Linked DNA regions of Homo sapiens. The protein of the gene in region 1 interacts with the protein of each later gene in a biochemical or structural test. Each region holds a gene or a part of one and is shown on either strand. Other genes may lie near its edges.

The links. The genes of interacting proteins can lie anywhere in the genome.
Region 2: the proteins of PTH1R (region 1) and IL16 interact in a test that uses a peptide from one of them, tested with the Homo sapiens proteins (one large-scale study listed by IntAct).

What each region holds. Positions count from the first base shown.
Region 1 is NC_000003.12:46,879,841-46,884,946, reverse strand, and holds part of PTH1R (parathyroid hormone/parathyroid hormone-related peptide receptor precursor), read right to left. Parts: intron 3,886-5,106; coding exon of another isoform or gene 3,829-3,885; intron 2,953-3,828; exon of another isoform or gene 2,765-2,952; intron 2,699-2,764; exon of another isoform or gene 2,483-2,698; intron 1,436-2,482; 5' UTR 1,388-1,435; coding exon 1,313-1,387; intron 1-1,312.
Region 2 is NC_000015.10:81,199,879-81,203,378, reverse strand, and holds part of IL16 (pro-interleukin-16), read right to left. Parts: intron 2,979-3,500; exon of another isoform or gene 2,909-2,978; intron 1-2,908. UniProt on the Homo sapiens protein: Interleukin-16 stimulates a migratory response in CD4+ lymphocytes, monocytes, and eosinophils. Primes CD4+ T-cells for IL-2 and IL-15 responsiveness. Also induces T-lymphocyte expression of interleukin 2 receptor. Ligand for CD4.

The sequences.
Region 1 (5,106 bases):
CCTTTGCTGGGGCCAGAATTGTGAGGGTGTAGGCACAGGTAAGTGGGAAGTGCTGAGGACCTCAGAGGAAGGGAGAGCCTCTGATGATGGGATTCTCAGGCAGATGTTTCTTCCAGGCCCTCTCTTTTACAGATGGGGCAACTGAGGCACGGAGAAGGACAGCCCAGGCTTACACAGGCATCATGCAAAGGTGGAGGAATCCCAGGCTCATTGGAACTGCCTGGAGCTCTGCCCCGTGTAGGGAGCTGCTGCTGGTCAGGAGGAGGAGGCTGCCTGACTGCCCTGCTCTCTAGCAGGCAGATACCCCCACTGGGGAGCAGGGAGAAGAGGCTTTGAAGTTAGGCGCACAGGCAGACAGCCTCCCCAGGAACGGGCTCGTCCCAGGGGATGGGGTTGCTGTGGAATAGGACTGAGGGGCTGGGACAGCCCCCTTCCCAGCAAGTGGGCCCCAGACCCTGGCCCAGGAGGAGGAGGTGCTGCCCACTCTGTGTCTCCAGCTTTCTGCCTTTGCCTGTCTCCCTATTTTTTTTGCTGTTCTTAGTCTGTCCACCCCTCCAGCTGGGGGGATCTCTCCTCCCCACCCGGCTTTGTCTCTGTCTCTCCTCTCCCTCTAGCCTTCCCTACCATTCTGCTTTTAGGTCACTCTCAGGGAGTGACAGTCTTTCCAGGGGTCTCCTCACTTCCCCACAGGATATGCTGTGCTTCTCCTACAGGGGTGCACTGTGAGGTCAGTCTCCTTCAGGGAACTCCATCCCTTCTCCATGCCACACCACACCCACCTCCTTGGGGAAACAGCTTCTACCCTGGGTGAAGCCAGACGTGTGCATGTGTGTGTGTGAGGGCTGGAGGGGGCCCCTAAATCCTACCCCCTGCCTGGATGATTCTGACCTCAGACCTACATTCCCTGTGTCCGGGACTGCAACAAAACTTGCAGAAAACAGAGGTCCCCAAAGCAAAGTCTGTGGGAGTACGCAGCAGGGCCAAAGCCCAGCCTTCTGTTGGGTCACACTGTCATCTTCCAGGGAGAAACAGCCATGGTGCTCACAGAAGCAGAGGATGGTGAAAACTCAACCACAAATTGCCAGATTTGGGACCCCAAACGAGGCTTCAGAAATAGGGAGGCTTCAGGCAGCTGGAACCCACAGTCCAGACATCCCAGAGACAGCAGGCACCCAGGATCCTGGATCAGAGGGGACTCTCACCCAAAGTTCGAACTACTGGGGGAACTCAAGACTGCGTGCCTTAGACCTATCCCGCGGACCCTAGGGTAAGCCCGCAGCCTGTCCCGGAGTGTTGGCGGCGGGGGACTCACCAGCGCGTACGCGGAGCTGAGCACGGGGCAGCAGAGCAGGAGCGCCAGGCCGGGTGCGATCCGGGCGGTCCCCATCGCCACCGCCTAGGGCCGCGTCCCTCGGGGCAGCCGCCGCCGCCGGCCCTGGTGGTGGTAGGGGGTGCAGAGCTGCGTCAGGCTGGCCGCCCCGCCCACGCCCCGGCCTATGGGACCCCGGCGTCCCGGCGGCCCGAGGCCCCGGGGCCCGGCGCGGGGCCCATGCGCTGAGGGCGAGCGAGCGAGCGAGCGAGCGAGCAGCGCAAAGGAGGGAGGGAGGGAGGGACAGGAGGGAGGGAGGGAGAGCCGGAGGCCGGGCGGGCGGCGGGCGGGCGCCGAGCGCTGCGGAGCGGCCCGTCTGCCTCGGAGCGAAGAAATCACATCCATATGGCCGGGCCCCCCGCCCCCGGCCCGCCCCCCGCCCCCCTCCCGCGCCGCCTTTTCTTTCTTTCTTTCTTTCTTTCTTTCTTTTTTTTTCTTTTGGGGAAATGGGAGCTGTGGCTTCGCCCCACGCCCAGTGGGGGGAGGGGGCGGGGGAGGGGTCGGGGTCGCGGTCTGCGGGGGGCGCGCAGGACTGTTATTTTTAGCTCCGCGACTTTCGGCGTAGGGAGTCAGGGCCGGGCAGGGGGCGCGTTCTGAGCCGCGCGGGGCGTGCAGTTAGGGGGTGCGATCTCAACTTTGCAGCCACACTGAGCCCTTAGGTGTTCCGGCCGCCAGCCCCCGGCCGTTCGGCCTCCTGAGATCCCAGACCCTCGGCAGCCGCCTCCCGCACCCCTTCCCCATCCTTGGCCAGAGCCCCGCTTGCGCCTGTGCGGCTCGGGCGCGCAGCGGCCCCGACGCTCTGTCGGTCTGCCTGTCTGTCAGTCCGTCTCTAGCTCCCCCGGCCTTGGCCTCAGTTCTTCCAGCGGCCCCAAGCTCCGTTTCGGTCACTCCCTCGCTCCCTCCCTCCCCCTTTTCTCTCTACGAAAACATTTGCAAGTTTCCAAAAAAGCCACCGAGCCGAGCGGCGCGGGGCTGGCGACTCCCCCGGGTTCCGAGGAGGCGCCGCCGACTGACACCGAGACAGAGCAGCCTGGCTGCTCCGGCCAGGCCCGGAGTCGCTCCTCCCCGACTCCGGCCACTTCCCCTCGGCGCGGGTCCCCAGCCCCGACTTACTCCGAGCGCGCCGCCGCGGCCCCCGCCTTGCCATGGATGTCGGGGCCCCCCCGACAGCCTCCCCAAGCCAGCGCCCCGTCCGCGGCCCCGGGGGGACTTCATGGAGCTCTCGGGATACCCCCCGCTGGCCGGCCTGGCCTCCAGCGCCCCCCGCCCGGCCGCCGCTCGGAGCCACCGCCCGCCGCGCGCATCCCTCGCCTCGGCGTCTGCCGCTCCCCTTCTCCCCGGCCGGGCGCCTCTTCCCTCCCCCGCGCCCTCCCGGGCCTCTCCCGCCCCCACCCCCTCCGCAGCCGCCGACGCGGGAGTGTGGAGAGGCCGAGAGGAGCCTTCCGCCCCCCGCCCCGGGACATTGCGCTAGAGGCCGAGGCCCGGAGTCTTACGGCGGCGGGATGTGAGTGCTGGGGAGACGGGGCGGGGGCAGCTGTAACATCGAGACCCGAGCAGGGAACCCGGGACGCCGCCGCCGCTTCATTCTCTTCTGGAAAGCACGGGCTTTTAAATTTTTTTTCCCTTGATCATCCGGCCCCCGCTGGCGAATAGAGACCCTGAGCCGAGAAGCGAGCCCTCTTTCATCATGGGCGAATCCCCTGAGGAGGCTGCCCGGTACCCCCGCGCGCCCCCGGCCGCGACGCTGTCAGTCCACTGGGCTCCCGTTCGGGCCGGGTCGGGGTCCCTGGGGAGGCCGCTCGGCTGCCAGCCCCGAGCCCGGCTTGGCTGCTGCCGCCCTCCCCCACGTCCAGCCCCACCCTCGCCTCGTCCCCTGCCCTCAGTCCCATCCCAGGCCTGTCGTTCCTCTCGGCCCTAGGCCAGCCCCGACCCCCGCCCAGGTCTGCAGCCACACATCCCGCTCCCTCCCTGCCCAGCGTCTCTTCGGGTCCGGGTCTCCGAGTCTCGACCCATTCAGCTGCTGGCCGGGCCTCTCCAGCTTGCCCAGCCCCAACCCCGGAGGCTCGAGGCTGCCAGACCTGGGGCTCAATCCAGACACCCACTCTCAGGCTTCACCTCCCTCCCCCGTTCCCACCCCCACTCCCAAAAGCTATCGGCCGGCTCGGACCGGGCCGCCTGGGACCCTCGACTTAGGGGAAGGCAAGGAGGAGTCCGCGGGGGTTGGGGCTGAACGGGGCGGGATTTCTGTGTTTGGCTGGGGAGGGCACGCTGGAGCTCTAAGAGGAGGGGCCCTTCGACCCCAAACCTACCACCTCCCGGTACCAAGTGGGGAAACTGAGGCAGAGGGAGGGGCTGGGGATGCCTGGAGCGCAGGGCTTTAAGGATCGCGGAGGAAGCGAATGCATGAGGCCCTGGGAAATGAGTCTGGGCTAAGCAACAGCCTGTGCTTGCCCGCTTACCAGTTGTGTGTCCTGGACACTACCACTCTTCGGCTGTCTGGACCTCAGTTTCCTCATCTGCAAAATGGAGAGGTTGGCCAGCTGATTCAAGGGCAATGTTAACTTTACTGTTTAGTTTCCACGAGGGTGGGCATCCTGGCCCATGGGCTCCAGGGGCTCTCAAGACTCAGCCTGTGGATATTGAGCTCCTCGGAGCCTGCAAACCTGCCCTCCAACCCTCAGTGCAAATCTGTCAAGCCCAAGTCCTAAGGCCTAGGATCCAGCTGCAGCCACCCTTCTGCTGGCTCAAGCCCATCCAGCTTCCAGACTGCACTCCCAGGTGCATTCCCCATGTATTTCTTCTGCTGCTACTTTCTTCTTCTTTCTTCTCCTTCTCCTTCTTCTTCTTCTTCAAGACAAAGTCTCACTTTGTCACCCAGGCTGGAGTCCAGTGGCATGATCTCTGCTCACTGCAACCTCCGCTTCCCAGGCTCAAGTGATTCTCCCAAGTAGCTGGGACTACAGGTGTGTACCACCAACCTGGCTAATTTTTGCATTTCTTGGTAGAGACGGGGTTTCACCATGTTGACCAGGCTGGTCACGAACCCCTGACCTCAAGTGATCCACCTGCCTCAGCCTCCCAAAGTGCTGGGATTACAGGTATGAACCACCAGCCTTGGCCCTCCCCATGCATTTCTATGGCTGCCTCCCTTCTCTGTGCCCACTGCCCTCATTTCTTTTTCTGGTGTTCAAGGGCTGTGCTATTTGAGACAGTTTCCTCCAAAAATGACTCTCCCTAACAGGAACTGTCTGCTAGACTCCTGGTCTTCTTCACACATCCACTCTCCTGCCTTTGTCCTTGCTGCTTCCTCTGCCAGGATCATACTCTTCTGCCTGGTGTAAAGGACACTCCCCTCCCTCCTTGTGTGCCCACATCCTCCGTTACTGGGGAGGGAGGTTGTGATTTCAGGGCTGCCTCCTATGGTATGTAGCCTCCTTGGGACGGAGGCCCAGGTGCCAGAATGGGCACCTAAAGAACACTTGTGGTTCTTCAGTGTTATATTTTAATGGTCTCAGCTTTATTATGCCTCTGTTTCTTTTCTTTTTTGAGACAGGGCTGTTGGCCAGGCTGGAGTGCAGTGGTGCGATCTCGGCTGACTGCAACCTCCACCTCCCGGGTTCAAGCAATTCTCTGGCCTCAGCCTCCTGAGTAGCTGGCATTATAGTTGTGCACCACCACGCCTGGCTAATTTTTGCATTTGTAGTGGAGATGGGGTTTCTCCATGTTGGCCAGGCTGG
Region 2 (3,500 bases), on another chromosome or scaffold:
TAAAACACCAAAAGCAATGGCAACAAAAGACAAAATTGACCAATGGGATCTAATTAAACTAAAGAGCTTCTGCACAGCAAAAGAAACTACCATCAGAGTGAACAGGCAACTGACAGAATGGGAGAAAATTTTTGCAACCTACTCATCTGACAAAGGGCTAATATCCAGAATCTACAATGAACTCAAACAAATTTACAAGAAAAAAACAACCCCATCAAAAAGTGGGTGAAGGATATGAACAGACACTTCTCAAAAGAAGACATTTACGCAGCCAACAGACACATGAAAAAGTGCTCATCATCACTGGCCATCAGAGAAATGCAAATCAAAACCACAATGAGATATCATCTCACACCAGTTAGAATGGTGATCATTAAAAAGTCAGGAAACAACAGGTGCTGGAGAGGATGTGGAGAAATAGGAACACTTTTACACTGTTGGTGGGACTGTAAACTAGTTCAACCATTGTGGAAGTCAGTGTGGCGATTCCTCAGGGATCTAGAACTAGGAATACCATTTGACCCAGCCATCCCATTACTGGGTATATACCCAAAAGATTATAAATCATGCTGCTATAAAGACACATGCACACGTATGTTTATTGGGGCACTATTCACAATAGCAAAGACTTGGAACCAACCTAAATGTCCAACAATGATAGACTGGATTAAGAAAATGTGGCACATATACACCATGGAATACTATGCAGCCATAAAAAATGATGAGTTCATGTCCTTTGTAGGGACATGGATGAAACTGGAAACCATCATTCTCAGCAAACTATTGCAAGGACAAAAAACCAAACACTGCATGTTCTCACTCATAGGTGGAATTGAACAATGAGAACACATGGACACAGGAAGGGGAACATCACACACTGGGGACTGTTGTGGGTGTAGGGAGGGGGGAGGGATAGCATTAGGAGATATGCCTTCCAAATTTTCTATAGTCCTTGATGATGCTAAATTTTCATCACTCTTCAAACCCTATTTTTGGATAACACTTCTTTAAAATGAAACCACAAACCAATACAGACCCCCAAAGCTGTCTGTGCTCTGAGAACAGGTTCTTCCACTACCAAAGCACTCATCTGATGCTACTCCAGTGGCTTGTGTCACCACTGGTCATGTCTACTGAACTCTAAGCTCCCTGAGGGCAGAGTCTGTCTGTCATATTTCGAGTTGATCCATGAGGCCTAGCTTGGCGAATGGCCTCTATCAATTGCTCAGTAAATATTTGTTGAATGACTAAGGATGATTGCATTTAATGTTTAAAGGTGTTCTCTGGCCAGATAAAATGTATAAAGTAGGAAAAGACATTTTACATACTGTACAACACCTTTGCTTGGGCTAATTCTTCTGGGGAACTAATAGTTCACTTAGTAACCCCATCTCTGGTTCAAATCTGATGAATTGCCTATGCTTACTTGCCTTATATTGTAAGTGATCATCAAGATACATGGAATACTGTTGAGATATGGAGAAGAATGAGGTTAAGTCTTTTTGTGCTACATAGAATTGGAAAACAAAACATGCTGCAGCACAGTGTGTGCGCGTGTGTGTGTCTGATGCTAGAATAAATCAGAGAGAATACTCAACAAGCTGTTATTGAAGAGCAGAGAATGGGTAAAAACTGATTACTCTACATTTTACTAATTACAGCATTTTTACCAAACACAAAATTTAATATTAAAGATTAAAATACAAAGTGGCAATATAATAAATTGCTAATAAATTTGTATACACCACTTAACTACAACCTAAAAAGAAAAAGAGGGAAAAACAAAAACCACAAACTTAAAACAAAGAAACCCAAAATATGATCTGCCTACTGGAAGAAATAGAAGTAGGAAAGTGGCTCAAAAAGTTGTTCGTGGATGAACAACTAAGATCTCCTTCCTGGAGAACTAAGGGCAGGGCCATTAAATTAGACATTTCGTGATCTCTAAATAGAACTGAGAGGAGATTCAAAGAAATGCAAAATAACAGCTATAGAGCATTATGGAGTCTTTGGCCTGAAAGAATTTTTCAGATTTTGATGGTCCAACTGCTGTCATTTACTTCTGTGTGTGTGTGTGTGGATGGGGGTGTGTGCGTGCATGTGTGTGGGTGTATGTGTGATTGCTTTGGCTTGAGTTTTGGTAAGAAATTACATATCATGTCTTTTAAGATTATTTTTAGATATATTTCTCTTTTTCACCACACATACACACACACACACACAGAGACACACACACACTTTTTATTTTCTGCTTCTGACAACTAGCTCAATGCAGGGGATGCATTGTCCTGCCACTGCTTCAGTAAATGTGACAGGTATCCTGTGTTCTCAGCAACTGCTGCAGGATTCTCTGGCATCTGCACTTTGGCTGGAGTTGGCTACAACCATCCTTGGAGGATGAGGAGAAGGAAGGAAGAGAGGGAAAGCGCATAAGACTGGGCCACCTGTCCACCTTCTCCAACCCTCACCATTGCTCGAGGCTCTCTTAATCCATTTATGAGGAGGTAAGTACAGAAAAAAAGACAGATGAGCTTATGGCTGACTCAGGCCTGAAATCCTTGCCTTGGATAATGGGAAGAAGGCCATCTTTTTGAAAGAGAAGATCAGGAATATTTCAGTTACAATACTCTCCTGACACATTTTCACCATTCCAAACTCCACCCAGTGTTCTACAGGACTATTTATGAAACTTTTAAAATCTTGACCTAGGCTAGGCATGGTGGCTCACGACTTTAATTCCAGCACTTTGGGAGGTTGAGGCGAGCAGATCACTCGAGCTCAAGAGTTTGAGACCAGCCTGGCCAACATGGCAAAACCCCATCTCTAATAAAAATACAAAAAATTATCCAGGTGTGGTGGCGTGTGCCTGTAGTCCCAGCTACTCGGGAGGCTGAAGGGGGAGAATCACCTGAGCTCACGGAGTCAAGGCTGCAGTGAGCCGGGATTGCACTGCTGAACTCCAGCCTGGGCAACAGAGTGAGACCCTGTTTCAAAAAATAAATAGATAAATAAATAAAAATAATTTTTAAAGAATTTTAAAAATTAAAAAAATCTTGACTTACCATAATAATTTACATTTTACATCATAGTACATGGATCACATACACATAAGATTTATATGTATACATAAATAAATAAATATATATAACTAAAAACTTTCATGAAACAATACCTTTACTACGGTATAATAAAAATAATATAAAATATCTTTGGTATGAAAAAGATAATATAAAATATGATTTTGCTAAGAACCTGATGCAATCTGATGTATGCTATTCTTTTTTTGTTTTAGAAAAAGGAAGTTGGTTCCAACCCGCTAAGTTGATTTTCAATCCACTAGTGGGTCATGCTTGAAAACCACTACTTTCAGGTTTTCTCTGATTTTTTACAGCAATTCCATATGGGGTATTTGCTTTGATTCCTCATTTAGCTCCCTTCTTTGGGCCACTGAATCTTGTCATATGTGCATTGATTTTGCCGCATTTGCTCAGCCCTACTCA